Linked DNA regions of Homo sapiens. The protein of the gene in region 1 purifies or fractionates together with the protein of each later gene. This does not show direct contact. Each region holds a gene or a part of one and is shown in the gene's direction. Other genes may lie near its edges.

Evidence for each region.
Region 2: the proteins of NCKAP5 (region 1) and AGAP1 purify together in Homo sapiens (affinity purification with mass spectrometry; one large-scale study listed by BioGRID and IntAct). This does not show direct contact.
Region 3: the proteins of NCKAP5 (region 1) and MAEA purify together in Homo sapiens (affinity purification with mass spectrometry; one large-scale study listed by BioGRID and IntAct). This does not show direct contact.
Region 4: the proteins of NCKAP5 (region 1) and CEP350 purify together in Homo sapiens (affinity purification with mass spectrometry; one large-scale study listed by BioGRID and IntAct). This does not show direct contact.
Region 5: the proteins of NCKAP5 (region 1) and KIFAP3 purify together in Homo sapiens (affinity purification with mass spectrometry; one large-scale study listed by BioGRID and IntAct). This does not show direct contact.
Region 6: the proteins of NCKAP5 (region 1) and FBXO45 purify together in Homo sapiens (affinity purification with mass spectrometry; one large-scale study listed by BioGRID and IntAct). This does not show direct contact.
Region 7: the proteins of NCKAP5 (region 1) and ANKRD26 purify together in Homo sapiens (affinity purification with mass spectrometry; one large-scale study listed by BioGRID and IntAct). This does not show direct contact.

What each region holds. Positions count from the first base shown.
Region 1 is NC_000002.12:133,561,964-133,565,463, reverse strand, and holds part of NCKAP5 (nck-associated protein 5), read left to right. Parts: intron 1-3,500.
Region 2 is NC_000002.12:236,038,925-236,043,454, forward strand, and holds part of AGAP1 (arf-GAP with GTPase, ANK repeat and PH domain-containing protein 1), read left to right. Parts: intron 1-1,826; coding exon 1,827-1,917; intron 1,918-4,530. UniProt on the Homo sapiens protein: GTPase-activating protein for ARF1 and, to a lesser extent, ARF5. Directly and specifically regulates the adapter protein 3 (AP-3)-dependent trafficking of proteins in the endosomal-lysosomal system.
Region 3 is NC_000004.12:1,313,349-1,317,878, forward strand, and holds part of MAEA (E3 ubiquitin-protein transferase MAEA), read left to right. Parts: intron 1-2,048; coding exon 2,049-2,252; intron 2,253-4,530.
Region 4 is NC_000001.11:179,957,122-179,961,651, forward strand, and holds part of CEP350 (centrosome-associated protein 350), read left to right. Parts: intron 1-4,530. UniProt on the Homo sapiens protein: Plays an essential role in centriole growth by stabilizing a procentriolar seed composed of at least, SASS6 and CPAP. Required for anchoring microtubules to the centrosomes and for the integrity of the microtubule network.
Region 5 is NC_000001.11:169,920,329-169,925,225, reverse strand, and holds the end of KIFAP3 (kinesin-associated protein 3), read left to right. Parts: intron 1-2,123; coding exon of another isoform or gene 2,124-2,160; intron 2,161-3,444; coding exon 3,445-3,550; 3' UTR 3,551-3,897; downstream 3,898-4,897. UniProt on the Homo sapiens protein: Involved in tethering the chromosomes to the spindle pole and in chromosome movement. Binds to the tail domain of the KIF3A/KIF3B heterodimer to form a heterotrimeric KIF3 complex and may regulate the membrane binding of this complex.
Region 6 is NC_000003.12:196,585,532-196,590,461, forward strand, and holds the end of FBXO45 (F-box/SPRY domain-containing protein 1), read left to right. Parts: 3' UTR 1-3,528; downstream 3,529-4,930. UniProt on the Homo sapiens protein: Component of E3 ubiquitin ligase complex consisting of FBXO45, MYCBP2 and SKP1. Functions in substrate recognition but also plays an important role in assembly of the complex.
Region 7 is NC_000010.11:27,093,322-27,097,851, reverse strand, and holds part of ANKRD26 (ankyrin repeat domain-containing protein 26), read left to right. Parts: intron 1-4,052; coding exon 4,053-4,167; intron 4,168-4,329; coding exon 4,330-4,503; intron 4,504-4,530. UniProt on the Homo sapiens protein: Acts as a regulator of adipogenesis. Involved in the regulation of the feeding behavior.

The sequences.
Region 1 (3,500 bases):
TCTCTTCTTTAAAATGTGGATAATGAGAGTGCCTCCTTCATGGGAAGATGGAGAAGGATTAGATATCTTAATGTAGCTAAAACAATAGGCACAATGCTAGGCATACATTAAGTGCTAATGAGTATTAGCTACAGTTATTATTTATCTTGCTGATGCCCACGTCCCACCCCAGACTTACTGAATCATGACCTCTAAGGTGGGATTCAGATCCAGCCATGGTTAAAAAGTTCCTCAGATGATTTCGATGGGAATTACTGGCCTAGCTACCAGGAGCTGCTCTCTATTACTGAAATATGCTGGGCTTGTATGTTCTTCAGCACATCTGCACCTTTGTACTCCTGCAGCACCTCTCCACACACTCAGTTTATCCTCCATATCTTGCATGCACCTCCTGTCCTGTGAGCAGCTTTTCACATCCCAGTCACCGCAGGTAGGTGTCCCTGTGCACCATGGAACTCCGTCCGCATTGGTTCACTGTGCTTCTGTTCCCCTCTTCAGCCTCTGTGTCTCACGAGGGCACACCTGCCAACTGACTCCCCAAACTTAGCACCATGCATGACACTGCCCTTAGGGAATTACTTGTTGAGTAGACGGATGAATACTGCTCACTGAATGCCTTCATTTCCACTTGACTCCTGCCCTGTGCCTACCCCTTTCCCACGGTGGCACCTGTGAGCCTTGCTTCACTCTTGAGTCCCAGCTTTGCCTGTGCTCCTCCCTCAGGTGGTGTCTCCCTCCCTACTTAAGAGAGAAGACTGCGGTCCTGCATTCTGAAATCCTTCCACGTTCCTTGGCTTCATCTGACAACGTTCCCTGCTCTGTCTCCCCTCTTACTTCTCTCAGATGAAGAAACAGTCACACCCCATGGTATTCTATCTAAACTCTGTTGGGATGCTTACACTGCATAGCCCCATTTTAAAAGTATTTCTTTACCTTCCGCTGCTGCCACTAGATTCTAGTGAATTTGAGATAGAGTCGTTGCCAAATTTGAGTTGTCAAATTTGTAATCTTAAGTGTAGTTTGTAAACTCAGCACCTGGCACACAATGAGTTCTCAATAAATGAAAAAAATGTATGGATACATGGTTGATGGGCACAATAAAAACAGATTTAAAATGTTTTCTTCCAACATCAATCACTATTGAGTGGTTACTGTATACCAGGCACACTTTCAAGCTCTGTGCTCATGCTATCTTATTATGATCATTGTATTCATTGTCCAAGCAAAAATACTGATGCTCAGAAAGGTTAAGTAATGTGCACAAGTCACATGGGTGGATAAGAGGCAGAGGCAGGATTTGAACCCACAGCACGTACTTTTTTTTTTTTTGAAATGGAGTTTCACTCTTGTTGCCTAGGCTGGAGTGCAATGGCACGATCTCCACTCACTGCAACCTCCGCCTCTCAGGTTCAAGTGATTCTCCTGCTTCAGCCTCCTGGTTAGCTGTGATTACAGGTGCCTGCCACCACACCCAGATAATTTTTGTATTTTTAGTAGAGATAGGGTTTCACCATGTTAGCCGGGCTGGTCTCAAACTCCTGACCTCAAATGATCCATCTGCCTCAGCCTCCCAAAGTGCTGGGATTACAGGTATGAGACACTGCACTCAACCCCACAGTGCATACTCTTAACCTTTCATTTTACCGCTTTCTGGATATGGAGGCTTCATGAGCCTCACATTCACCCACAATGACGTTTTGGTCATTCACATCTGCCCCGATTGACTGCACTGGCAGAGCAGTATAGCAGATTAATACTTCCACCCATTCAAACTGGCAATTCACATTTTCTAGTCTTTCCAAAGTGTCTAACGCCTATGCGCAGTCCTTTACTATTTTTATTTTTCCTTTAATCTCAGAGATCTGAATCTTTTTTTTTTTTTTTTTTTTTTTTTTTTTTATGGAGTCTTTCTCTGTCACCAGGCTGGAGTGCAGTGGCATGATCTCGACTCACTGCAACCTCTGACTCCCTGGTTCAAGCTATTCTCCTGCCTCAGCCTCCCAAGTAGCTGGGATTACAGGCATGTGCCACCACACCCAGCTAATTTTTGTATTTTTAGTAGAGACAGGGTTTCACCATGTTGGCCAGGATGGTCTCAATAGCCTGACCTCGTGATCTGCCCACTTCGGTCACCCAAAGTGCTGGGGTTACAGGCGTGAGCCACTGCGCCCGGCCAGACCTGAATCTTTTTGTAGAGTAGCCCAAGTTTATGGTTAAACATCAAGATTATTTACATTCTTGGTGTGGGTTTTGGTAGGCCTAGTAAAGTTTGGTCAAGAGTGTAATCCAGGGATTAGATACAAAGAAAAAATTGGAAATAATGTTTGGCCATTTGGTTGGTCCCTGAAAATGGTAACCTAAGGAAATGGTAGCATTTTGTGAAAGTGGATTTAAATAGCCAGAAGGGTTTAGTCTGAACACTCTGGCAAGTCATGGACCCAGTTAAGCACAAAGTACCTTATAGCCTTCTTTTTCTCCAGTTCTCTAACTCTACAGGGTTTAATGCCTTTGGAATTTTGGATTCCCAATTGTCCTTCCTTTATAGATGAAATAATAAATCTCTCAGATACATAGAACATTACCCACACATTTACAATGCCCCAATACATACTTGCCTAATGAAGTGTATCGTGTCAGTTTGGAAGCCTCAATTACACAGGGTACTTCCCCGTAGTTACATAAATTAATCTTGGTATTTTCAGGGCAAGAAACCAGATCTCTCCTTTTAGAAATCAACTTTACCGGATTAGTGATTCCTTTGAGGAGAATTTGGATGCATTGTAGAAGCCCAGTGGACTGAGTTCAAGAGGAAAGAGGAGAGTCCCAAGCCCATTTTGGAGCATACACTGGGAATAATAACATGGCAGATAAATATTACGGTGTTGAAAGAAGAGCTGTTAGTTCTGAAATGTGGGAACAAGTGTTACTGTCGAGACGCATGTCTGACAAACCGCTCCATAAAGGCAACTTGCTTCATTTGGCAAATTGAATCTAGAAACATAGAACTGATCCAGGCCAGCCCAAAAGGCATTTCTCAAATGGTTTCCATTGTCAGTGCTAACTGGTTTTGTAGCAACTTAAAAAGTCAAAGTAATACATGCTCATAAATCAGAAAATCCAACAATAGTAAATTGTTTATATATCTATGTATATATATGAATATTAGTACTAAACAATAGCTCTAACATGCTCATATATATAAACATTGAGTATGTGTTTCTCTATATGTGTATATATATATGTGTGTGTATATTTATATAAAATCTTACAGTCTCTTGGGCCACCCTCTCTACCCCATTTCTGAGTTTTTTTTTTCTTCAGCTGTTTTTATGTAATATTCCTAAATCATATGTTTCTGTGTGTATGTCAAAGTACTACTTCTTTATTATTATGGTAGATTATAATATATCTTTTTGTACCTCCCAGAGCATCCCTATTCTTCAATATAATTATATCGCAGTTTTAATTACATGCATAGTGCTTATTTTTGTTTTGATTAC
Region 2 (4,530 bases), about 100 Mb from region 1:
GAATTAAAATTCAATAACGCATGATGCTAATTAGACAGTAGTGATTAATACATTATAATTTATTATGTAGCAAGTAATATATTATTTCACATCAATTTGATGAGATGTTTCAATTTATGAAGAATTCTTACGCAAAAATCAAGCTTATTGTAACTGTCCTCTGAAATTGATCAATTTTTGCTTTAACCATAATATTAAATGCATACTTAATAAATAAGCCTCAAAAACACTACATATCAGCCAGACACGATGGTTCACGCCTGTACTCCTAGTGCTTTGGGAGGCTAAGGTGGGAGGATCACTTGAGGCAAGGAGTTCGAGACCAGCCTGGCCAACATAGGGAGACCATTGTCTCTACAAAAAAATTTTTAAATAGCCAGGTGCATGGTTCACACCTGTAGTTCCAGCTACTCAGGAGGCTGAGGTGGGAGGACCACTTGAGCCCAGGAGATGGAGGCTGCAGTGAGCTATGATTGCACTACTCCAGCCTGGGCAACAGAGCAAGACCCTCTCTCTAGGTGGGGAAAAAGGTACATATCCAGTACATATCCTTTCACTTAGAACTTCTACTTCCAGGAATCTATTCTTAGTAAATAATCATGAGTGTGTACCAAGACTTAGCAATCATATGTTCTTACAGCATCGTTTATGATAGAGAAAAATTGGAAGCAACTTAAATGTCCATCAAAGAGAACTTGATAAGTAGGTCTTCACTAAGTGGAATGCTATGCAGCCATTTAAAATGATGATGTCAGAGAGTATGTGACAGCAGTGAGCAATGAACAAGTTTCGTTAGGCTGGAAAGGGCAGGTTTCTATGCAGCAATATGTATTACGCTGGCTTTTTAAAGTACATATGTGTATGTAGATGTGCTTAAACAACAGGCTAAAAGAACAGACATCAAAATGTTAATAATGCTTAACTATGGATGGCCGTATGATTGTTTATTAATTTTATGTTCTTTTTCCCCTCTCTGTATTTTCTAAACTTGCTTCAATGAGCATGTATGTTTTTAAATCCTTTTTAAAGAAGACCATAGAGCCAGGTGTGGTGGCTCACACCTGTAATCTCAACACTATAGGAGGCTAAGGCAGGAGGATCACTTGAGCCCACGAGTTCAAGGCTGCAGTGAGCTATGATCACACCACTGCACCCCAGCCTCAGCCACAGAGCGAGACACTGGCTCAAAAAATAATAATAATAAATAAATAAATAAAAATAAAGCAAGCCATCAAGTGTAAGGTTAAGAATCAGCACTCCCAGCTATACTCGTGTTTCTCCCTGCCCCCACCCTGGCGAGTGGCTTTGTCACTGTGGCAACCGAGGGTCTTCAGATGACATGTGCATCTCCCAGGGTGACGTGTGGTATGAATGGGGTTTTCTGACAAGGAACCATGAGATATGTCTTACATTGCTGATGAAGCCCTAACCCTGGGCTTATAAACGGATTATTTCTTTCTCATTCTTCTTACCAAGTAGACATGTGGCTACTGCCCAGAAGGTTACCCATTTACCTTCTCCAGGTTACCATGGTCCATGCGTATTCACAGATGATCCAGAACTCTCCTCTTTGCTCATTTCTGGCAGAGTCCGTCTCAGCTGATGAGTTAAAATGTGACATTTCCTCCCTCCCCCCGCCCCATGCATGATGATTTCTTCTTCAGTTATGCTCTTTCCCAAAGACATCAAAACAAGAGTGATTGTTTAGAAATTACCCTCGTCCTACATTTGCTCCCAATCTGTTTGATCTTTCCCTGATGTTATCAGTGATGTGCGTTTCTCCCGGGGTGCTTACGCCTTGTATTTGTGTCTTCCTCCGTGCCCAGTCCCGGCTGACGAGCCAGAGCGAGGCCATGGCCCTGCAGTCGATCCGGAACATGCGCGGGAACTCCCACTGTGTGGACTGCGAGACCCAGAGTAAGTGTGTGCGGTGGTAGCAGGGGCTGGCGCTGTGTAGCTGGAGACCACATGGTCCCACTAGGCCCGGGTTGCAGGGGACTCACATCTGTCCTGTTTGGCAGATAAGAGTTAACTGCTTTTAGGAAATTGAGATATTTTGTTTGGATTTTACCTTAACAGAGTGCCTTCCACACAAGCCTCACCCCTGGCTGCAGGGTGCGTTTCTGTGAGTCTTTCCTTGCCTTAGGCATCCGATGAGCAGCAGTCATACCTGAGGTGCAAAGGATTCAACCCCACACCCACAGCCTGTGCCAAATCTAGGAAGCCCAGGAATTCAAGACGAGCCTGGGCAACACAGGGAGAACCCGTCTCTACAGAAAATTAAAAATTAACTAGGCGTGGCAGCTGGCTTACTTTTTGCTTAATCAGTGATCACTTGTTGATTTTTTTTTTTTTTCATAAAAATAGAATATAATTGGTTCATTCCTGCCTAGAGATTCTTGGGTATTGTTTTTTTAAATTCACAATCATATGTTCTGGGTTTTGCCATCAAATGATGTCTTGTTTTTTTTTGGTCTTAAATCCATTACCCACTAAAGCCTCTGATTGAACTGATAGAAGTTGTAATTACTGCTTTGTGCCATCGAGTACCCCAGTTTTATTTCATGATTTCCGTTGTCTAATCCATACTATTACTTTCCCTTTGAAAAAGTCATTTTGTTGTTCATAATCTTGAGAGTAGGGACTTATTTTCATGGTTGCAGTCCCAGCCCAGAGACAGTATTGGAGACATTCAGTAAATTTCTTCCCTTCAGATTTTTTTTGTTAAGTAGTGTTTTGAAGAGAAGGAAGTTCAGTTCAAACAAGGTAAGAGGTGCTGGTACCAGGCTGGGTGCTGCCCAGGAGTCAAACGTGCATGGCGTGGTGGGTCCTGCCATCCTGAAGCCTGAAATGCACTGGACAAGGCACCAACCTGCTGACCATGGAGCTAAGCGCTGGGGAGAGCCATCGGGGGCATGCGGCGGTCTTGCCACCCATGCAGGAGCTGTCGTGTCAGCAGGGCTCTGGAGATGGGCAGGGTTTGTACAGGGAAGGGGCCGAAGGAATCACTGTGAGCAAAGGGAGTGGCTTGAGGAGAGCTTCTCTGGGTGGTTGTAGGATTAGAGATGCTTTTTGGGCTGGAAAACCAGTAGAAGCTAGTTGGAGTGTGAGTGCCAAGTGAAACTTTTTCCAGCTTTGTTCTTCATTTGTAAGCAGAGAGACATCATTGGAGTTTTAGAGCAGGAAGGAGATGGACCCTGAGCTCCACTTGGGGAGATGGATCTGGCCAGACCATTTTGAACATACTGGAATAGAGGCAAAGCAGGGAGGAGGCCAGCCAGGGTCGGCTTGGCCGGGAAGGGAGACAGGAGCCCAGGACTGCTCCAGACAAAAGGGAAAGGAAGCGCCCCCTCCAAGAGTCCACTCAGCAGCATAGCAGGCAGGGGAGAGATCAAAAGTCTGTCTGCGGCCTCTCTGGAAGCCTGTCCTGCGGGTGAGGGAAGGGGTTCTTCTCCAGGTATCTTGAGGTTCTTCTTTAAAGTACCTCCTTATGTTTGAATGTTTAAGTTTTACTTTCAAATGTGTGGTGAAATGAAGTTCGAAGAGAGAAGCAGTTATTTGAAGTGTGTTTCTATCAAAAAGTTTTAAAAGTAAGAGCTTTTTTAAAAGCACGAATCTGAGAAATATTAGAACATCCATTAAGGAAAATGCCTGCAGTTGTTTCCACCGTGCGTCTGAAGGTCGCTTTAAAAGGAAAGCCATCCGTGGCTTGCGGGGACCATGATACCTGGCAAATCGGAGGTCGCAGGTCCTGTCTGAGATGAGCTTGTGCATGTGAGTGCGGATGGGGGGTGGGAAAGGGAGGCCAGTGCAGGGGAGGTGTGGGCCAGTTTGTTCTGAGCAAGACCACCTGAGCAGATGGACAGGGACAAAGGGAAAAGGCAGAGTTTGACAATTCAGGAGAAAGAGGCGATACCAAGCACGCATTTGCTAAATGTGTGGTCTGTGTCAGCCCGGTGCCAAACCCTCCCATGCGCTGTCTTTTCATTCTGCAACCCTAGTAGTTGGTGCCCCTGTGGGCCCCACTTAAAGGGGAGGAATTGAGGAGCCTGAAGGGTCAAGTCATTTGTCTGAGGTCACAGAAATAGCAAGTCCCAAAGCAGGATTCAAACCCATCTGTTGTCCAGCCTGCTGTATTTTCTCAAGAATGGAAAGGCTCAGAAGATGTAGCACATTGGCAAGGATTTGTTAAGTAAAAATACCCAATTTTGGTTAAAGTACCGGGATAGGTACAGTGCCCACACTGATGATGAACTGTAAACACCTCCATGGGGCCTTTCGACAATGTATATAAAAAGCTTTTGAAGAGTGGATGCCCTTGACTCCAGCTGTATACTCCAGGAACTAAACCAATGGGATTGAGTAAGGCGGGTGCAGAGATCTGTCTTTCCAGATGTTCATCACAGTGCTTTACATGGCAAAAAATCAGAAGCATCCCAAATGTCTAACAATTGAAGAGCAGTTCATGGTGATGTCTTGTCTTTGCTACCTTTAAAAATCATGGAAAAAGACTTAATTGAGCCTGGGCAC
Region 3 (4,530 bases), on another chromosome or scaffold:
GGACTGGAGACCCAGCAGGCAGTAGACAGAGGGCTGCACGGACTGCAGGTGCAGGGGCTGCCAGGTGCCACACCTTACTGTGCTTAAAGAACAGAAGCAGGCTGGGCGCGGTGGCTCACACCTGGAAAGCACTGTGGAAAGCTGAGGCAGCAGAATCACTTGAGCGCAGGAGTTTGAGACCAGCCTGGGCAGCACAGGGAGACCCCATCTCCACAAAACATTAAAAATAGCCAAGCGTACTGGTGCCCTCCTGTAGCCCCAGCAGATACTCAGGAGGCTGAGGCAGAAGGATTGCTTGAGCCCAGGAGGTCAAGGCTGCAGTGAGCCACGATCATGCCACTGCACTCTAGCTGGGCGACAGCGAGACCCTATCTCAAAAAAAAGTTTGAAAGTCTCTGCAGGGAACAGACAGTATAAAAAGTGATTTAAGGCTGGACACTGTGGCTCACTTTGGAAGGGCGAGGCAGGTAGATTGCTTGAGCCCAGGAGTTTGAGATCAGCCTGGGCAACATGGCAAAACCCCATCTCTACAAAAAATAGCCAGGCGTGGTGACACACACCTGTAGTCTCAGCTAATTGGGAGGCTGAGGCAGGAGAATCGCTTGAGCCCAGGAGGTCGAGGTTGTAGTGAGCAGAGATTGTGTCACTGTACTCCAGACTGGGCAACAGAGTGAGACACTGTCTTAAAAAAGTGATTGGGCAGGCACAGTGGCTCACGCCTGCAATCCCAGCACTTTGGGAGGCCAAGGCAGGCGGATCACCTGAGGTCAGGAATTCAAGACCAGCCTGGCCAACATGGCGAAACCCCGTCTCTATTAAAAATACAAAAAAATTAGCCGGGCATGGTGTACGCCTGTGGTCCCAGCTACTCGGGAGGCTGAGGCAGGAGAATCACTTGAACCCAGGAGCTGGAGGTTGCAGTGAGCTGAGATCGCACCACTGCACTTCAGCCTGCACAGAGACTCTGTCTCCAAAAAAAAAAAAAAATTCAGAATTTAAAAGGGACTAAAATTTCAAGAAATGGGAAATATAATAACCAAAAATGAAAAACTCAACATTTGCCTATAACAGTTTAACAGTTAACAGACAAAGCTAAAGACAGAATTAGTGAACTGGAGGGTGATCGAGAATGGAGCACAGAGACTGAAAAATCAAAGTGGCTGCGAGAGTAAAGCATGGAATAGAGCAGAAACCTGTGGCATGTTTCACCAGAGCCCACCAGTGGGTGGGGACAGAGATGGTGCGGGGAGAGTGACCAAGGTTTCAGAACTGATGAGTACCACCAGGTCAGAATCCGACACAGAGTAAGTGAAAATAAACCGACATGGGATTTTCCCGTGGTGGAACTGAAGAAAACAGAGACAAAGAAATATTTGAAAAGCTCCTGAGGGCAAAAGATGACTTCCAAAGGGGCAACAGACAGCCGGACAGCTGATTTCTGCACAGCAGTTGGAAGCCAAAATTGGTAGAATGTGCTGAAAGAAGCCAGCCCGGATCCTGGATCTGTCCAGTAGTCAGTCGCCGTGTGTGCTGTCAAATTTTTAGCGAAGAATTCAGTTCCTCAGTTGCACCACTGCCCTTAAGTGTGTGGCAGCCACGTGGGCTGGTGGCAGCTGTGTTGGGCAGCACAGGCCTGGAACGTTTCTATCTAGCCCGATTCATTTTTAACAAAATTGACTTTAAGAAAAAAAGTATTGCAAAAGATTTTTTTAAAGTCACCTTATAATGATAAACAGTTTAACCAGAAAGGCATAGCAAATTTGAAATTGTATGCATCTGGCAACATGGCTTCAGGGTATATTAATATAAAGCCAGAAATAGCAGAGAGAAGCTGCAGATCCAGGGTGGTGGATTTTCACTGCCTCCGTCTGCAGCTCTTGGGCCAGGCACACCTGCCTAGCGGACTCGGTAGAGCACGGTTTTTTTTCTGTCCCGTAATCCCTGCTTTTCTCCTTGTGAGTGTTGTGGATTGGGGCAGCCTGGCCTCCCTTGGTGCAGGGCTGCGGGGCATCCCTGTCCTGAACGTGCCTCTGTTGTGTGTGGCTCAGGCGGTGGAATCCATCCAGGCCGAGGACGAGAGCGCCAAGCTGTGCAAGCGCCGGATCGAGCACCTCAAAGAGCATAGCAGCGACCAGCCCGCGGCGGCCAGCGTGTGGAAGAGGAAGCGCATGGATCGCATGATGGTGGAGCACCTGCTGCGTTGCGGCTACTACAACACGGCTGTCAAGCTGGCGCGCCAGAGCGGCATCGAGGTGGGTGCCCGCCAGACGCAGGCACAGCGCCCCAGCTGGCCCCAGGCCTATGGCCAGCCGCCCTGTGGCATGTCCCCCGGCATGCCTGTGTCCCTACATGCTTGTGTTCCCCTCCCCCCACCCCCGTATGCTTGTGTTCCCCTCCCCCCACCCCCGTGTGCGTGTGTCCCCCCTCCAGTGTGTGTGTGTGTCCCCCTCCCCGTGTGCGTGTCCCCCTCCCCCCATGTGCATGTCCCCACCCCTGTGTGCGTGTGTCCCCTTCCCGTGTGTGTGCCCCCCCCCCCCCAATGTGCGTGTTTCTCCCCCACCCCGTGTGTGTGTCTGCGCTGTGGTGAGGGCCTCCTCCCCAGCTGAGAGGCCCTGACCCTTTGTGGAAACGCACCTGGGACTTAGCCTTCTGAAGGCAGGAAGTCAGTGTCTAAGCGGCTCTCCAGGTTCTTCTCATTTCCCTGTGGTGTCTGCACACATCCTGCTTAGGATTTTCCCGCCCGATACCTGTACCCCGGGTTTTGCGCTGACACATGCTCCATTGCTTCCTCGTGAGAGCTTTGCCTTTATCTCAGGCGGGGTGCGTTTTCCGTGTTTTCTGTGGCACCCTGTAGAAACACGTGGCACCCTTGCCCTCTGTGGCTACAGCTGAGCAGACGCTGGGCGGTGCTGCCCTCTGGCACCTTTGGGCCAGGTTAGCTGGGGCGGCCTCTCTGCCATCGGGCAGTTGTCCACTGCTGTGGGGGCCCATGGCAGTTGGAGCCTCCCAGACCAGCACTTGGGCCCGTCGCCCTTGCCCCTGTCCAGATCCTGCTGTGGGAGCACAGCCTCACCTGACTCGGGTTAAGGTGGCGTCCGTGTTCCATTTGACTGAGATGACAACACTTGAGAACCTCTCAGGCAGGACTTGTGCGAGAGGATTGTGCCCCATGGCCCTGTCCCGGGCCCAGCCTCCCCATGCCCAGCCATGCGCCTGGCCCCACAGGCCTCCCTCCCATGCTGCTCCCTGCCACGGCTCCTCAGCCCACCTCCTCCCTGCTTCTGTCTAACCAGGGGTCTTCTCTCTTTCCACGGCTTAAATCCCACCCACATGTGTGTGGCTCCCACCTGGGGCATCATGGGCCTCAGCCCTGGCTGAATTCAACCCCAGCACAAGGCTCCCTTCCCAGCCTTGGAGGCGGCCTCACATTGTGCAGTCCAAGGCCTCGGGTGCCCATGGGGCCACACTCACGCCCCCATGCAGCCATCTGCACGCCCTGCTGGCTTGCAGCCTCCCCCACACTCCTGTCACGCTCCTGCCCAGCTCCCCAGCCTTGCGGCACTCCAGACTCACCCCCAGGCCCACCCGGCCCCACACTCCAGACTCACCTGCAGGCCCACCACGGCCCCACACTCTAGACTCACCCCCAGGCCCACCCCGGCCCCCACACTCCAGACTCACCTGCAGGCCCACCCGGTCCCACACTCCAGACTCACCCCCAGGCCCACCCCGGCCCCCACACTCCACACTCACCTGCAGGCCCACCCGGTCCCACACTCCAGACTCACCCGCAGGCCCACCCCAGCCCCCACACTCCAGACTCACCTGCAGGCCCACCCCAGCCCCCACACTCCAGACTCACCCGCAGGCTCACCCCAGCCCCCACACTCCAGACTCACCCGCAGGCCCACCCCAGCCCCCACACTCCAGACTCACCTGCAGGCCCACCCGGCCCCACACTCCAGACTCACCCGCAGGCCCCACACTCTGGACTCATCTGCAGGCCCCACACTCCGGACTCATCTGCAGGCCCCACACTCCGGACTCACCCGCAGACCCACCTGGCCCCACCCTCTTGCTGGCTCTTGTCCTCGGCATTTGTCCCGCACCTCGTTCACCTTCTCTCAGATGCTGCCCTGGGTGGAGCGGCACCCTCCCACCCATGCCTTCTCCCCACTGCTGCACAGCCTCCCTGCTTGTGTGTGTGTGTGGTGTCCGTCCTGCCCTCCAGGAGGGGAGTGGCGAGCAGCTGCCCAGTGGGCAGGGTGAGCGAGTGAGTCCTCGTGTCCTGGAGGCCCTCATCTGCCCAGACCTGCACAGCACTGTTGCTCTCGGCACCGCTGGGGTATGGCGTCTCGGTTCACAAGCGTGAATGTGATGTGTCACAGCTGTGCCATGAGTTGATCTGCCAGATGGCAAAGTGCACTGATCCTCTGCGGTGACCGGGGCTGGTGCCCCTGGGTGCCCTGCAGTCTTGTTGAGTTTCCGAAGTCTCCAGGTCATGACTCGCAGCCACTCCAGTGTGCACCC
Region 4 (4,530 bases), on another chromosome or scaffold:
AGTTCATTTATTATCTTTCACTTTGGATACTCAGTTCTGTCATCTTTATTCTTTCAGTCATTTATACTCTTAGTTATGTAAAACAAACATTCAAGCCACATGATCAGTAACATAACTGAAAAGTAGTAATATCTTGATGATTTTATTGTTGAGACAACTGATGATTTAAAAAGTTAATTCTCTGCATATAATTGTGATTGTTATTTTTGCAACATGAGGCAAATTTTAGTGTTATAGTGTAAAAAAATCATCAGATTGCATAGTATTTTTTTCTGTATTGATTTGTTGTTGTTGTTGTTCATTGTTATCATAAGTGTGATTTTACATTTACTTGTGGTTATTTTGAGTTATTCTTTGCCTTTCTCATCTGGTCTGTAAGTTCCATGATGGCAGAGATCCTTTAATCACTATTATGCACCCAGTGCCTAGCATATGGTAACATAGTCAATAAATACTAATTGAAGAAATTGACTAAAGAATAGTCCCAGAATAATATTTTAAATGCAAAACAAAACAAAAGACTAGTTCTTAGTTCCTAAGCACACCTCAACTCTTGGGAATATATTCCAGAGATATGCTCAGATTTGCTGGGTAGCAAGGGAATGACAGCCTGGGATTAAAAAGCCACTGGGAATAAGCCACAGTGGAAACTTCATTTACTATTTTAATGATTTGCCTAGGTGCTCTGGCAACAGGTTACGGTAATTTAAAGAAAATATAAACTTTAAGACCCTAACCTGTTATACTAGTACTATAATTATAGCCTTGTAATAACTTTAAGTCACTTCTTAATCTCAGTATTGGGAGTTTAAATTCTTCAAGGCCAGCTAGTCCAATTCCCATATTTTATACATAAGAAAACAGAAGGTTGTATAGGGGCGATATCTCATGCATAGTTGATTTCATAACTGGGAGAAGAATCCATTGCACAGCTGCTAAGTCTACATTTGTTTAATATGTCAGATAATTATAAAATCAGAACATAATTGTGATCAACTTGGCAGTCTATTCAGTATTAATTAAAAACTCAAAATGGGCCTTTTTTTTCATGAATCCAAAGTGTTAACTTAAAAATGAATCTGAACCCTTTCCTCTGTAGTTGGGACTATAAATTGATACCATTGGAGCAACCTTCTGGAAGGAAATTTGGCATTCCCTATCAAGATTAAAAGTATATATATTGTTTGATAGAATCATTTCCTGCTTAAAATTTATGTTACATAAATTTTAACAGCATAGGAATTGTATAAGAATGTTTATATTAGCATTATTTCAAGATGTCAATAACATTTATAAATAATTTAAAAATGTCCTAAATGTCTGTTGGTAGGCTAATAGTTAAAAGTCTAGTATTTTTATGCTGTGAATTACTGTGCAGTTGTTAACAGGTTTCAGGGTATCTATATTTACTTCATGAGCAGCAGCTGAGCATATCCTTCAGCTCCTGGAACCATGCGGTGGACCTTCTGGATTCAAAACCTAACTGCACTACTTTCTAGCTGTGACTCTTGGCGAATTACTTAAAGTCAACTATAAATTGGATATACTAGTAGTTCTCATGTTACAGGGGTACCATGAGAATTAAATGAGTTAACAGTTAGGCCCTAAATAAGCATTAATAAGCGCCACATAAGTGTTTGCTGTTACAATTATGTATTGACTTGGAAGAATGTTCATGATATAAAATTAAGTGAAAAAATAAGTTGCACTATACTATAGAATATGATTTATTTAAAAAACACATAGACAAATGTAGTTTTGTTTTCATTTTGCATGTGAATAGAAAAAGGTCTATAAGGATAGACATTAAACATGTTATTCCTGAGGGAGTGGATGACTTTTCTTTTTTACTTTAGACATTTTTGTATGGTTTTATTGTAAGAATCACTTTTATAATTTTTGAAACTTTTTTCTAAAAAAAGGAAGTAAATTTTTTCTTCTATTAAATAGTGATATAAATGTATTTTTGAATGTGATTTTTAGAGATCTACACATTTCATCAACAGAGTGTCTCATAATTAGATCCTGTGTCAAAACATTTGTTGATGGAAGGGCTGGGACTTGGTGGCTCACGCCTGTAATCCCAGCTCTTAGAGAGGCCGAGGCAAGTGGGTCACTTGAGGTCAGGAGTTCGAGACCGGCCTGGCCAACAAGGCGAAACCCATCTCTACTAAAAATACGAAAACTAGCAAGGCGTGGTGGCAGGCCTGTAATCCCAGCTACTGGGGAGGCCAAGGCAGGAGAATTGCTTGAACCAGGGAGGTGGAGGTTGCAGTGAGCCAAGACTGCCACTGCACTCCAGCCTGGGCAACAGAGCAAGACTCCATCTCAAAACAAACAAAACTTTTGTTGGCTGGGTGCGGTGTCTCATGCCTATAATCCCAGCACTTTGGGAGGCTGAGGCGGGCAGATCACCTGAGATTAGGAGCTTCAGACCAGCCTGGCCAACATAAGGAAACCCCATCTCTACTAAAAGTAAAAAACTAGCTGGGCATGGTGGCAGGCTCCTATAATCCCAGCTGCTGGGGAAGCTGAGGCAGGAGAATTGCTTGAACCTGAGTGGCAGAGGTTGCAGTGAGCCAAGATTGCACCACTGCACTCCAGCCTAGGTGACAGAGGAAGACTCTGGCTCAAAACAGACAAACAAACAAAAAAACTTTTGTTGGCAGAAGGTTGAAATTTAGGAAAATCTATAATAAATATATTTGTTTTTCTCCTAGCTTTGTAGCCTTAAGTCTTATTTCTTACTTTACAAAGTAAACCCGTAGGCTAGATCAGTGTTTCTTAAATCCAGTATTCCTAAACTGTGCACTGAAGTAAATCCTCACTTAATGTTGTCCATAAGTACTTGGAAACTGCAACTTCTAAGACCCCAAACACCTCTAATATTAAACATTGAAATAAATGGGTCCTATGCATACATTTAAGAAATACTAAAAACAAGATAATTACCCACTTATTTCAGTTCAGGATGGCAGGTGGCTGGAGCCTGTCCCGGCAAGTAGGGCACAAGATAGGCTGCCATTCCATTGCAGGTAGCATTTACAGACACACACACACCCACCCACCCACCCACATTCACTCAGACTGGGACCATATAGACATGCCAATTCATGTCAGTTCACCTAATGCGTGCACCTCTCTGATGTGGGAGGAAACTGGAGCATACGGAGAAAAGCCACACAGACATGGGGAGAACATGCAGGCTCCACATAGATGGTAGCCCTGGTGGGGAAATCAAAATTTTTTTCTCATCAAAATTGTGAAGAAATGATATTGAATGAAACTATGTTATGGAGGACCTGCCGTACTGTGGAGCACCATAGTAACTCACCTGGACACTATGCATTATTTGAGAAATTTTAATGGAAACAGCAATATTGGATAGCTGTGGGATATTTGACATCTATAGGACACTACTCAAACTACCAGTTTGAGATACCACACAAGAGATTGTGTTCCATTTTTTTTGATGACACTGTGTCTTCCAAACGCTAGGTTTTGGGAGTTTGCTGTGATAAAAAGCAAGTACTATGCAAAAATCAATTTGGAACAGTAAATGAAGGTGGTGGTGTCCAAAATGATTTCAAGATTTGAGAACTTGTGTAATATCTAGTAGGTACACACATCCTATTAAGTAGTTGTGGTAATTTAGTAATAAAAATATTTATTTCAATTTATACATATTTATTTTTCGATCTGCTACTAAGTTGGTAGGCTATAAATACTTTTTAGGTTGTGGACTGAACTACTTAGTAAATGGAACTGTTAGGTATTTTTTTGGCCTAGGGGTTCCATGAAAAAAATAACTGGCATACTGAGGGGTCTGTGAACTGAGAAAGTTTAGGAACCTCTTGAACTTTTGACCAGGACACCTATATATATTTTCCATGTTCTGTGCTCCCAAAGGTTGATTTTTTACATTTATCTTTATTTTTTATTTTTTTAAATAAAAAGAATAGATGTGTGTTATACGTGTATGTGTATACATATAATGAATCAAAAGTTTCACTTTTCAAAGTTTTACTTTAAACAGCCTCATGGCCAGGCGCGGTGGCTCATGCCTATAATGCCAGCACTTTGGAAGGCCGAGGTAGGCAGATCATTTGAGGTCAGGAGTTCAAGACCAACCTGGCCAACGTGGTGAAACACCATCTCTACTAAAAATACAAAAAAATTAGCTCGGCGTGGTGGCGCGCACCTGTAATCCCAGTTACTCAGTAGGCTAAGGCAGGAGAATCACTTGAACCTGGGAGGTGTAGGTTGCAGTGAGCCGAGATCGCGTCACTGCACTCCAGCCAGGGCGACAGAGAGACTGTGTCTCAAAAATAAAATAAAATAAAATAAAGCGCTCACTACCTTCAATACACTTGATATTTGCAAATCAATCCTATTTAGTTCCATTAAAAAAATGCTAGCTCCAATCCACGATATTGTTTTGTTTTGTTTTAATCTACTAACGGGTCATGACTACACACTTGATAATATGATGCTGGTTGACTCCTAACGTCCAGCTTTAATACGGTTTGT
Region 5 (4,897 bases), on another chromosome or scaffold:
AGGAAAAAGGTGAAATGGCACTAAATAAGTAATCCTATAAAGAAAAAGTACTATAATAGTTGCATATACTAGTCTAGAGGGATACACCACATTTTATGTGGGTTAGGAGTAGCAAGAAGAAACTATGTACATACAGAGACATGCACCCTACAAGATTGGATTGAATTCCAGTATACTTATAAATAGCCACATATTCAAACTATTATCTGAAGCAAAATGGCCACACAAGGCAAGAGCAGATGTGGCATGTCACAGCTTACTTTTCCTTGCTTCTCAGGGCCCCTAGTGAGGGCATACAAATTCCTGTGATACACACTATTGAAGTCAAGTCTTTCCAGATCAGGAAAGCACAATTTTTCCTGCAACGTTGCCTTTTTATATTCATAGTTTCTATCTCTTTCAAGAACTTACATGAAGAATCTATCTGCTTCTGTTTAAAGGAAAACTCTCCGGGTTTTGAACTAAACTCAGCATTAGCAAGGCTGTATCCTTTTCCCAAGGAAAAAAGTAAAGTGTCTACATATTCCAAAAGAATGTCTCCAGGTTTTAGCATCCTAGAAAGCCTGATTTCCCCCACTATATTAGAAAGAAGCAAATGAGAGTTTAAAGAAACAAACTGTTATGTTTCACAGTGAATTTAATTAAAAATGTATGTAGATATAGTTGATTTTTCATAATACAAAAGGACCTAGGACCTATGTCAAAGTACTCTCCAAACTGATCATAAATGTTTTAAATATTTTTTGCTTTAAACAGCAAGTTCATCTGTGATACATAATGGAGAATTCCAGAAAAGATCATTTTAGAGTTTGGTTTCAAATTTTATTCCTTTTTTCCAAAACGATATTTGTATATAGAAATTCGAAAAATTAAATGATATCCTCTACACTGTAATACACACAGATGTCTCTGGGTGAACTGCTGACTACATAAATAGATCTTTACCATAGTAACCTAAAGACCATACTGTTCAAGACCAGAGATTTACAGGTTCAGAAACTCAGACTCATCAGTGCTCAAGGGCCAGTCTTTCACTGACTTGGGACTGCAGGTTTTTATCAACAATGTGCATGACATATTTTAAAAAGAAAAATCCATTTGTTAATGTACAATGAAAGTTATAACCATCAGGTGGATTAGGTAATATCTAAGTTTATTATTTAACCTGTTGGCAAATTACATGGGAAATTACAGTGATCAATAGTTTGCCTATTAGTCGTAGAAATAAAAAAAAGGGGGAGAATTTTGCAACTTGAATGTAGAATGGCCTCAGACTCTGAGAATGTTAAATTCCCTTCCTGATTGAGGACCAAACTGCAAAAAGGCCAGATATTCCTTATGGTGTTATAGCTTACCAGATCACCACGCAATTGCCTAGGTTGCTACAACCAGCGTTGTAGCTGAGACGCTCCTTGTTCTGTGCCAATGACTGGTGAACTCCCTTCTGAGGACCATCTTCTTTTAGGTAGAATTACAGTGATATTGCTAACAAGTCGTCTGTGAGATACTCTGAAGGTGCCTTTGCATGTTTCCTCACTGTCCCACATATGCCTCTTGTTTTCATATTACTGAAATAGATCTTGCCATAGCCCCTAGATTGAGAAACAAGCATAAGATTAACTTGAGTTTAACCTAAGTCTACTGCTATTTGGCCTCAGAGGAGTTGCTAAAAAAGATAAGGACTGGTTGAAGACAGGTAATAAGCAAAAGATGAAGAAGGAACAAGTTGAAATCCAAGCTATGTAATCAACAGTTATATAATTGAGAGTTCTTTAGATACATGATTACTTGTTAGCCTTAGTGCTTGCAGAGAACAGTTTTCAATAACTTCTCTAATTTTAAGCTGATACCAGTGTCTCTTAGTTCACTGATTCCACTAATTTCTGAAGCATCTTTTAAGCTACCTCTTGATTTCCTCATCACAAAATTTAGTCTCTCTTCCCATGAGATCAAAGTTAGAAAAAGTGCCTATATTTTTACCATTTCAAAATAAAATGTAGACTTAAAAATTTCAACCAACTTTGAGAAACTATAGACAGAGTTTTTATATAGAAGGACCCCAAAACAACAAATTTTGTCCAGAATCGCTCAGTACAAATGCTAACCTGAAACTTGTATTTCAGAACTTCCATTCTCCTAAAGGGCAGAGTCACTGGACCAGTATGTGTTATATGTATTTTGGCTCTTTACATTTACTCTTTAGTTCCATCTTAATACACACAAGCACGCGTGCACACAAACACACACACGCATTCACACATTTATTTAAAACCTTAACATTTTAATAGTTACTTCTAAAGTGTGTCAACTTAATCTCACTCTGAGTGTGACAGGGAGTTAGTGCCTATGTGAATATATTTTTTCATCACATTCAGTTTTTGCTATTGAGGGAAAATTATCTTTCCATCTCATGTAGTGCAAACTTAAATCTTAAATCATTTAAATATGTTTTATTTTTCCAAAGCTTACATTTCTGCATTACAAATGGTGTCCATTGATTGGAAGTCAAGCTCACTAGCATTCACTGCATGAGCTATGCATGAGCATGTTAAGGCCACCATGTTCTGCCTGGCAAAATAAATACTTTATCATTTTCCTAAGTGTTGGATAATTCCCTGACCTTTAAAAAGGACTTTGGAGAACAGATTTTCCTCTAAATAATGTATTAATAGACCAACAAGTAATTTTTTTAAAATAATAATCATGAAGTTTAACATACTTCAAGCTATCTTTACAACTCTGAAGGTTATCTTTGGGTTTCTGTTATTCCCATAGAATAAGTTGAACCAAAATTTGTAATTGTCTTGCTGTCACTCAAAAGAAATAGATATGTTTTGTAATTGTTTGCATTGAGGAATCAGAGGAAGGATTTGCAGATCAAATCTGACTAATTTTCAAATTTTGTCAAATTCCTTATCTTGTTCTTTTAATCATAGGCTTATGGTATGATTTGGCCCTGCATGAGAGTTCACTGATATAACTCAAACACATGTTTTTACTAAAAGTGGAATTAGTCCTGTATCTTCATATGAAAAGACATTATAAACAGCAAAACTCACTTTACTACAGTTTTATTTTTATCATTCCCTAGCAATATATTACTGATCATTGCTAGCATGTAAAATCTTTTCATATTTTTGCTTAAGAGCCATATATAAGTAATTTATTAAATAAAACTTTTCTGATTTGATTCTTCCACTTTGTTTCAAATAGTACCTACTGACAGAGGTTTCCCATACTTTTAACACACATTGTTAGAAGTATTTTATTATATACACTTTTAATGGCTCTATTAACCTTAAAAAAAAAAGTTAATGATATCCACCTAAATCACTATCCCTGCTAGGAAGAGAATCTTGGTGGTATAAAAATGTAGGCCTCTTAATCTGCATTGTGGATGTGTGATGAAAAACATAGCTTATCATTCTTTTTTTTCTTTTTTAGCCTTGGAATGGATGGCTTTGGCCAACCAGTTGGCATTCTTGGACGCCCTGCCACAGCATATGGATTCCGCCCTGATGAACCTTACTACTATGGCTATGGATCTTGATAAAGTATCTGTTTCCATGTGTAATCTCAGCTTAGAAGAAATCTGTGTGGGTTGGGTTAATTTTGGATCTTTGCCTAATAATGCATGTTGATGTTATTGTGGGTCTGTGTTTGTTTTTATTTTTATATGTTGTTAGCTGCAGATTAACCCCAGCCCCTCTGTCTTCTGTTAAGTACAGTTGATACTGACATTGTTCACTCATCAAACCACATCTTGATGCTAAGTAACATTTCCCATGAGCCACAAAACTGAATGCTGAAAAGCTACTAGACTGGAAAACAAACACTGCATTATGTATGTTAAGTGACTAATTTAATTTCAATTAAAAAGCGTAAAGTGAAAATGAATAAGTGAAAGTCATGTGTTTATATTTCACACATTTCACTACGAATTACATGTTAATATAGGGTGCGCGTGAATTTTATTTTTTCTCCTTTTTTTCTGCTTGTAAACTCTTGAGTAATTTGTATAATATATGCTACCTTTAAAATTTATAAAAAGAACATCACCTTCATATTCCATGCCATGTGCCTGAAAGTTTCCTTCCCAAAGTTTATTAACTATGAGTTTTCAATTAATAATGGAACATATGTCATAAGTTATTTATGGTTATAGTCTCTTTGGTGGTTTTAATTCATATCTTCCTAGTTGTAATATAGAAATCCTAGGACAAGTAGTATACAAGACAAGCAGTGATACAAGATTAGCATTTGGCTTTTAACTTTTATTCTTCATAAATTTAGTATCTAAAGCATGGGAAAGCTAATTAAAAGTCGCATTAAGGAAAACTAAGGAACAGAATATTTCACTCACTTGGGTACCCAGTTCCCAATTGTTCACTTGTTCTTATAACGTACATTTAGATAGCAAGAAATGGAGAGACATTATATAATTCATAATGGGTTTTGAAAATAGTTCAGTGTTTTCATATTAAAAAAATGTTCAATTCTACTTGAAAAGCTGAGCAAAGAAATAACCATAATAATAACTATAATCAGAGATAGTTCCATGATCACCTGCTATGGGAGAAAATATGAAGCTTCAAAGGGAATACATAGATCAAAGATAAGACTTCTGTTCTTGAATTTAAAATCTCATTGATCTAACTACACTATTTATGTGGCTTAAATTACATTTTAAGCAGAAGATAACATTTGGAAAAGGCCTTTGAAATAACTCATTCCATCTACTTATTTAAGAAACCAATCACATAAAAAATTTAAATGTAATCAACAGATATTTTCCTGACTACCTGCTATGTGTAAGGAAGTATATGATGCCCCTTAGGAGATGTAAATCTGAGGTATGTTTATGCCTTTGATCTTTCTGAAAACATACATTTATTTG
Region 6 (4,930 bases), on another chromosome or scaffold:
GCCCCCATGGGACTTGAAATACAACACCTTGTGCTGAAAACTTCAGGTTGGCAATATTTGAAGGTTTCGTTGTAGAAGAGTTTAACATTAACTCCTATTTTGACTTACAAATCTTGTTTCTCATCACTAAAATGCTTTTGAATTAATAATCCAACCCACATGAGCTGAGAGTTTTTCTTTTGTTAGAAAAGAAACAGACATCTTTCTGTATGAAAGTATAAATTGTATGGTTTTAGATACATAAGAATTGACAAAAGCGAGCGAAATCTTTGTACTTCTGAGTTCTTGCTGTATGTATGTTTTGTTTTAAATCTGATTAGGGACACCCAGCAGCTGGCCGGGATTCTTGGATTGCTCCTTGGGAGTTAAGATTGTCAATACTCCTGTGAAGCAAGGGATTTCAGCCATAGAACAAAGATTTATTGTTGCCACCTGAAAAGTTTACAAGTATTTATTGTGTATTTGATACATTGCTTGAAAAGATGAAATCTGTTAAAGATTCTTTTCGATGTCCAGGTTAAGAAGAAACCTCCTTGTATTGAGTGAAATTATATGTTAAATGTATTAGAGAATGTAGGTGGTATAGAAATTGATTTTTCTTGGTGTAGAACAACTCAGTTCGGCAAAGTTTAAAATTTGATTAAACAAGAGAAGTGGTTCAGGTTGAAGATGGACTTGTTAGGAAGTGATCAAGTCCTTTAAGTACTTGTTTCTTTTTCAGGTTGTGATGTGGCCATTCCGAATTTTGTTGAGAGTTTGGTTTATAATTGTCTCTTTTGTCTTGTTAGTAAACATTCATTTGCAACAGTTTTGAAGGTGCTGAGTGGAAAACCGAAACACATGGTTATTGCGTATTGGACCTAGAATGAAATAATTGCCTCAATATTTAACAACAAGCCATTCTTATCTCAAAGATTTAAATTCCCGAATGTCCCATTCGCAAATCATATGCAATTGAAGTGAGCAGCATGAGCATCTGGGTCATGAGGGCCTTCATTTACGTAAATTTGTCACTAAAACCCAGTAGTAGCTCTACAAAATCTTAAACTGCTGCAGTGCTCAAGGAGATGGAATATCTTTGTCATTGGTGCTGAGGAGAGCATTTCGGTAGAAGACAGTTGCGCCTGAAGATTGAGTGTAAATCATTCAAACCAGTGGTTCTCAGTGTTGGCTGTATACACTTTGTAGTCACTTTGGAATGTTGGAAGACACATCGATGCTTGGGTTCCGTATGCCAAGATTCTGATGTTGGTCTGGAATATGAGCTGGTCATAAGGATTTTTAAAAACTTTCTGGTCATTTCAATATGCTGCCAAGGTTGAGAACCACTGTTGTAAAATTCACCTTGAGTTTTCTCATCTGCAAAATAGAAAAAAAAAAATCCTTGCTCCCTCCCTTCACTACCTCACAAGGATATTGAGGGTAAAGGAGAAAATAATGGGAAAGTGCTTGTGCCGTGGATGAAAAGTGCTATTAAAAGTCAAAGGAGTGTTCTGTTTCAATTCATAGTATGATCAGGGAAAGTGTAACTGAGTATACTTTGTTGACTTGGGAAACCTGGAGCACTTTCTTTGGTTGGTTAACGAAGCATGCAGATGTGGAAGCAGACGTTACTATTATCCCTACTATGGTCTTCTGTCATACTGAGACAGGCTGTTTTAATTACCTGGTTTTACATAGGAAAGAAGAAATATTAAGGCTTAAAGTTTGTAATGATCAATGGCTCATAATTCATTAAATCTTTTCATACAAGGAATTTGTGGTTAATGTCATTTCATAGTTGCCATTATTTTCTCATTATTTGACTTAAATGTTAAGCCATTTATTTCATCTCCCTCATTCACATAAAGTGTAGATATGGATTCAATAAGACACCAAAAGAAAGTAAGATTTACCCAGTTAATATTTAAAATCATTGTTCAGTGATTAGGCATTTTCTGCCTTTTAGAATTATTTGACTGGAGAAAGAGTTTCAAAAATAGCAGAGCCCTAAACCATAAAGAAACTACTACTGTATAATGAACTTTTGTTTGTTTTTGGAGACAGGGTTTCACTCTACTGCCTAGGCAGGTCTTGAACTCCTGGGCTCAAGCAGTCTTCCTGCCTCAGCCTCCCAAGTAGCTGGGATTACAGGTGTATGCCACTATACCCAGCTTTAACTTTTAAATCCCCAAACTATGTAGATTGTCATATTAATATTAATTTTTTTTTGTTATTTTGAAGAAGTGAGTAATTTGAAGAGATAGAAACTTAGGGAGTGGTGTGTGTGTTTCTTTTTTGGAGACAGAGTCACGCAGGCTGGAGTGCACGATCTTGACTCACTGCAACCTTTGCCACCCAGGTTCAAGCAATTCTCGTGCCTCAGCCTCCCGAGTAGCATGTGCCACCACACCTGGCTAATTTTTTTCTTTTTTCTTTTAGACGGAGTCTTGCTCTGTTGCCCAGGCTGGAGTGCGGTGGTGTGATCTCAGTTCACTGCAACCTTTGCCTCCCGGGTTCAAGTGATTCTCCTGCCTCAGTCTCCCGAGTAGCTGGGATTACAGGCACCTGCCACCATGCCTGGCTAATTTTTGTATTTTTAATAGAGACGGGGTTTCACCATGTTGGCCAGGCTGGTCTCGAACTCCTGACCTTGTGATCCACCCACCTCAGCCTCCCAAAGTGCTGGGATTACAGGCATGAGCCACTGTTCCCGGGCCTAATCTTTGTATTTTTAGTAGAGGGGGTTTATGCCATGTTGGCCAGGCTGGTCTTGAACTCCTGGCCAACACCACCCACCTCGCCTCCCAAAGTGCTGGGGTTACAGGCGCGAGCCACCGTGCCAGGCCAGAAATTTAAGGAGTTTTAAAGGTTAGCATTGAAAAGATTACTTTCCAGAAATTGAGACCACCACAGTTCCACAATTGGGACTGTGGTAGATAATCAGGACCACTTGGAAGCCTTTATTAGGAACAGCCCACACCCAGCCCAAATGCTGTCCTCAAAAACATTCCTCAGTTTCTCTAGCTGAATGTAATCTCTCCTTGAAATTTCCCTAGTTTTATATATCTATAGTTGACTCATGCTGTATTTATTTATACCTTGTTTAAAATTATTTATTGATTATTTATTGGTGTCATATCGCCCCTAAACTGGGACAGGATCTCTAACGGACTCATCTTTGTGCCACAACATGTAAGCCCAATAGGCAGGTGCTCACATATTTGCTGAAGGAACAGAGAAAGAACTGCGGAGAAAGACAAAAGCTCCTCTGAAGTTTTAGACTATAGAAGCAAAAATTATAGTAGCAAAAGATGAATGAGAAATTCTGTTCTAGTCCCAGTGAAGCAGGAAGGAAAGGGTTGCAAACTTGAGGCTGGTAAGGAAGAAATAATTACTGTGAATGCATTTAGCCACTCCCCTCTACTCAAAAATACTGGTAAACTCTGATTTTTATATTTGTTTAGAATTTAAATTAGAATTCTGTATCTTTATTTTTTGGAATTCTGTTGTTTTGCCTTAGTTTCTTAATAAAAAGTTAAACATTAACCACCTGTGATTGCTTACATTTAAAGACATTTTTTACACATTGGTTAGAAAGAAAAATTGGGGTGCCTTAATAGCCAGAGGTGGTGATGGAATTTACCTATAAATTCCATGGCTTTAATAATAGAATCCACATTCCCCATGTTTAGAATGGAAAGTGGACAGAGAACAGTAATTCACTAGGGTCTTATTTCCCAATTGCCTCTACCGCCCCCCACCCCACCCTCCTGCTGACATTTGTTTGATAATGCAGTTGTTTGCCAAGAATTATGAGAGACAGGCATGCTATTCCTGAACTGGCTGAATACACGGCTCCTGTGATCCAAAAGCTTAAAAGAGAATCAGTTGATGATGTTGCTAAACAAGTTGGCTGATATGTTAAAGTTCAAAGCATTTTAATTTTTTTTTTTTTTTTTTTTTTTTTTTTTTTTTTTTTTTTTTTTTTGAGACAAAGTCTTGCTCTGTCACCCAGGCTGGAGAGCAGTTGATGTGCTCTCGGCTCATTGCAACCCCTGCCTCAGGTGATCCGTGTGCCTCGGCCTCCCAAAGTGCTGGGATTACAGGCATGAGCCACCGTGCCCAGCCCAAAGCATTTAAATTTTATAAAAGAAAAATAGGTGTAAATGTTCTGTATTTGCCGCTTTGTTTAGTGGAAAGAGACGCCAGAGACAGCTTTACCAGTCTGTTGTCCTGATTTCTTTTTTGGATCCTCCCTCGAACTGTTTGCTTCTTATTTAATGTGTTCACTAAAATACTGTTGAGAGCAACATGTTCTCTAGTCTTCAGAATAATAGTTTGCTGAAAGAAGTAGCCCTTTAAGATTTAAGATTGTTATTCAGCTTTTGTATGTAGGATTTCATGATGAGTGGCTCAAGAAGTAGGAATCATTTGGGGAGTTTCCTTAGGTCACCCTGTTGATAGTGTTTAATTTCTGTTTAAGGCAGGAAAACATTAAGAAAAGATTAGAGAAGTCAAGTCCTGTCTATGATATGATATGATACTTGTACACCATGTTATATTTCTGCCCCCTTTCCTGTATAAATAAAATGGGGATAAAATCAAGTAATGGTTTTGAGGTCATAGCTCCCTTAAGAAAGTCTCCCTGAAATAATGTATTAAAATTCTAGCGTCTCAAGTTAGATTCATTAGAGGCATATTGTAGTGGGAACAGACCAGATATCTTTGTTTATTTTAATATAGCTAACTTGTTCATATTCCCAACCCATGTTTAAAGAGCATATGATTGATCTGTGCCCCCTTGTTGGTCATCTTCACCTTGGAAGGAAAGGAGGCTTAAGGTTGCAATGAGAGTTGTTGATGACATCTCTAACCCCTCAGTAGGCCAAAGAGTGATGTAGTTCATGATCCAATTGCCCAGAATAGCACGGACAGATGGTTACTTTGC
Region 7 (4,530 bases), on another chromosome or scaffold:
GTGAAACCCTTCTGTAGTAAAAATACAAATATTAGCCAGGTGTGGTGGTACACACCTGTAGTCTCAGGTACTTGGGAGACTGAGGCAGGCAGTAGAATAGCGTGCACCTGGGAGGCGGAGGGTACAGTGAGCTGAGATTGCACCACTGCAATCCACCCTGGGTGACAGAGCGAGACTCCATCTCAAAAAAACAAAACAAAACAAAACAAAAAAAAGATAAATATTATTGCAAAAGAATAAAAGAATTACTCTACTTTATAAGAATTTTATTTAAAAATATTGAACTCCCTAATGATTTTTCCATTCTTTCAATCCATTTATTCATCAATCATAACCTGAATACCTGTTATGTAGCAGACATAGTCTACTATCTCTTTTTTCTTTTTTTCTTAGACAGAGTCTCCCTCTGTTGCCCAGGCTGGAGTGCAGTGGCCAGATCTCAGCTTTACTGCAACCTCTGCTTCCTGGGTTCAAGCGATTCTCCTGCCTCAGTCTCCTGAGTAGCTGGGACAGCTAATTTTTTTTTTTTTTTGTATTTCTAGTAGAGACAGGGTTTCACTGTGTTAGCCAGGGTGGTCTCGATCTCCTGACCTTGTGATCTGCCCACCTCGGCCTCCCAAAGTGCTGAGATTACAGGCTTGAGCCACCGCGCCTGGCCTTTTTTGTTTTTGAGGTGAAGTCTCGCTTCTTCGCCCAGGCTGGAGTGCAATGGTGTGATCTCGGCTCAATGCAACATCCATCTCCTGGGTTCAAGCAATTCTCCTGCCTCAGCCTCCCTAGTAGCTGAGATTCCAGGCACGTGCCACCATGCCTGGCTAATTTTTGTATTTTTAGTATAGATGGGGTTCTACCCTGTTGGCCAGGCTGGTCTCAAACTCCTAACCTCAAGTGATCTGCCTGCCTTGGCCTCCCAAAGTGTTGGGATTACAGGCGTGAACCACCGCTAGTTATAAGCATATTAATGTAAGTGCGTAGTATTTTAATAAAATGTGGTAGAATATAGACTTGATCTTTGAATTGGAAACATAACAGTAGTGGACATGAAGATTTGCAGAGCTGATTTTTTTTTCTTTTTTTTTTTTTTTTGAGATGGAGTCTCGCTCTGTCTCCTGGGCTGGAGTGAGTTGGCATGATCTTGGCTCACTGTAACCTTCTCCTCCCAGGTTCAAGCAATTCTCGTGCCTCAGCCTCCCAAACAGCTGGGATTCCAGGCACCCACCACCATGCCTGGCTATTTTTTTTGTATTTTTAGTAGAGACGGGGTTTCACCACGTTGGCCAAGTTGGTCTCAAACTCCTGACCTCAGGTGATCTGCCTGCCTCAGCCTCCCAAAGTGCTGGGATTACAGGCATGAGCCACTGCACCAGGCCAGAGTTGATATCTTTGAAGTGAGGATTTTACTTCTATGCAAATTCTTTTCTGTCAGAGGTGAATCCCTATTTTAGTCATGAATATGATATTTATTCCCCTTTCACAACAGGAACTTCATATATATGTATATAAGTGCTGTGTGGTGTTCTAAACTATTTCAGTCTTGCATTAGCATTGTAATACATAATGTAGCTAATCTGCTATGAATTTGGGAATGCATTTTATGACAAATTTACAGAGCTGTCAGGGAAGATGGAAAGTTGCTGATTTCTCATATAAAACTGTCTTCATAGAGCTTGATGTGAATCTCCTGCACTTCTGGAAGCAGGTATTTAACTCATCCCCAGGAAATCAAGCCTGAGAGAAGTTCTGGTGAGCTGCTTGGCTCCTGTGTTGAGACTGGTCTGGTCTCTTAGCATTTGTTTTGGCAAAGAATGTTTGGATGTTTATAGAGGACAGATGAGAGCTCTGGTCAAGTATGAGAGCTGTTGGTGGGAGGGAGAATCCATTTGGGATCCCATATGAAAAGTCCTGTTAAGGGTGTGAGCAGGCCTTAGAAGAGGGTAATCCAAAGTGGATCTGTGGATTCCTTAGGAGCTAAGAGGAAAGAAAGGCCAGAGTGGAGTGCATTCATTCAGGTCAAGGCAATTGCAGGTGAAAACATAGTCTACTATCTCTCAGGACCTTTCCATCTTCAAAACCTTTATGTTTGCATACCTGCCCAGCCTGAGCAAGTTGAGAGATTTAAAATTAGACTATTAGGGCAATCTCAATTGAAGCTTTTCCTCCCTCCTCTTATTTATTTATTTTTTTGAGAGGAGATTATGCTCTGACACCCAGGCTGGAGTAAAGTGGCATGATCTCGGCTTACTCCAACTCTGCCACCAGGGTTCAAGTGATTCTCCTGCCTCAGCCCCCTCGAGTAGCTGGGATTACAGGCATGTACCACCATGTCCGGCTACTTTTTGTATTTTTAGCAGAGATGGGGTTTTACCATGTTGGTCAGGCTGATCTTGAATTCCTGACCTCAAGTGATCTGCCTGCCTTGGCTTCCCAAAGTGTTGGGATTACAGGCGTGAGCCACTGCACCCAACCCCTCTTTATAAACAAAAGTGTTTCTGAAGGTAGAAAATTATAAGAAATAACCTTTAATTACCCTTTTGAAAATTTATGTCTTAAACACGAATATTAGTCATTGGAAATATCTGCATATATTCTATAAATCTAAATATTGAATAAAATGAGCCAACCTATTCATTTGAATCCTGAGTTTCTTTTGTGTTGAAGTTTCTTGAAAACACAATAAGAATTACTTTGTTTTAAAAATCTGTTTTTCAATTTTAAAAATGCTTCCAATTATAGTTGTAATAAATCATGAATTACAAGTGGCATTCCAATGTCAGAGATATTGAAATGTGAGAAAATGAGCATCTTAGAATCACTGAAATACTGTGTTATCTCTAATTTTTTTTTTTTTTTTGTAGACAGGGTCTCTCTCTGTTGCCCAGGCTAGAGTACAGTGGCACAATCACAGCTCACTACAGCCTCAACCTCCTGGGCTCAAGCGATTCTTTGGCCTTAGCCTCCTGAGTAGCTGGGACCACAGGTGTTCACCACCATGCCTGGCTACTTTTTAAATTTTTATAGAGATGGAGTCTCACTATGTTGCCCAGGCTGGTCTCAAACTCTTGGACTCAAGCAGTCATCCTACCTCAGCTTCCCAAAGTTCTGGGATTCAGGCATGAGCCGCCATGCCTGGCCTTATCGCTGATCTTTAAAACATACTGTCAACTAGGTATAATTGTATCATTTCATTTAATTAAAACATCTTTATTAAACAGTAGTAATGGTAATTATATCTAACAATTATTGAGCTGTTATTTGTGCTAGGAACTGTTCTAAACATTTTGCATAGATTCTCATGTAAGCATCCCAGTGGTGTCCTATGAGATAGCTACTATTTTGATCCCCATTTTATTGATGAGGAAACTGAGGCACTTACTAAGCCATAATGAGTAAGTGACAGCTTAAAGTAGGATTCAACCCCAAGTTGAACTGAATCTAAAGGTCAAGCCTTTTCTATTCAGATAGGTTGCTCTTTCATTAATGTGGTGAGTAGTAAGAGCTAATAAATATTGTACTGTTTTCAGAAGAAAATTAAATACTTGTTTTGAAGGCGGAGGATTAACATGTGTATTAGTCTGTTCTCATGCTGCTAATAAAGACATACCCTTTATTATATGGGTAATTTATAAAGGAAAGAGGTTTAATTAACTCACAGTTCAGCCTGGTTGGGGAGGCCTCAGGAAACTTAACAATAAGGGCAGAAGGAGAAGCAAACATGTCCTTGACATGGTGTCAGCAAGGAGAAGTGCCAAGCAAAAGAGGGAAAAGCCCCTTAAGAAACCATCAGATATTGTGAGAACTCACTATCACAAGAGCAGCAGCACGGGGGAACCATCCTCGTGATTCAGTTACCTCCCACTGAGTCCCCCTCACCACACGTAGGGATCATGGGAACTACAATTTGGGATTTGGTTGGGGACACAGCCAAGATGAGATTTGGGTGGGGACACAGCCAAACCATATCAACATGCTATTTAATGTTTATAATTTTATGAACCATTGTATGTTTTGAGACAGTGCACTACAGTTTATAAAAAGTCCTGTCACTCTCATAGGACGGCTCTACATTTGGCCTGTGCCAATGGTCATCCAGAAGTAGTAACTCTCCTGGTGGACAGAAAATGCCAGCTCAATGTCTGTGACAACGAAAACAGGACAGCTCTGATGAAGGTATATAGTAGCCAGCTCTTTCAGCATCAGATGGATTTGACTTAAATACATAGAATGAAAATGAATTTATCTCATTAAAATATAACTAATTGGTGAAACCTGTGGAGTGTTTATTTTGCATTCCTAGAATTTATGATCTGTTTCTTGGTCTAATACTCCCAGGCTGTACAATGCCAGGAAGAGAAATGTGCAACTATTCTGCTAGAACATGGTGCTGATCCAAATCTTGCGGATGTCCATGGCAACACTGCTCTTCACTATGCTGTCTATAATGAGGACATATCAGTAGCAACAAAGCTGCTTTTGTATGATGCAAATATTGAAGCAAAAAACAAGGTATAGATCAACCAACTTTATTTTTAC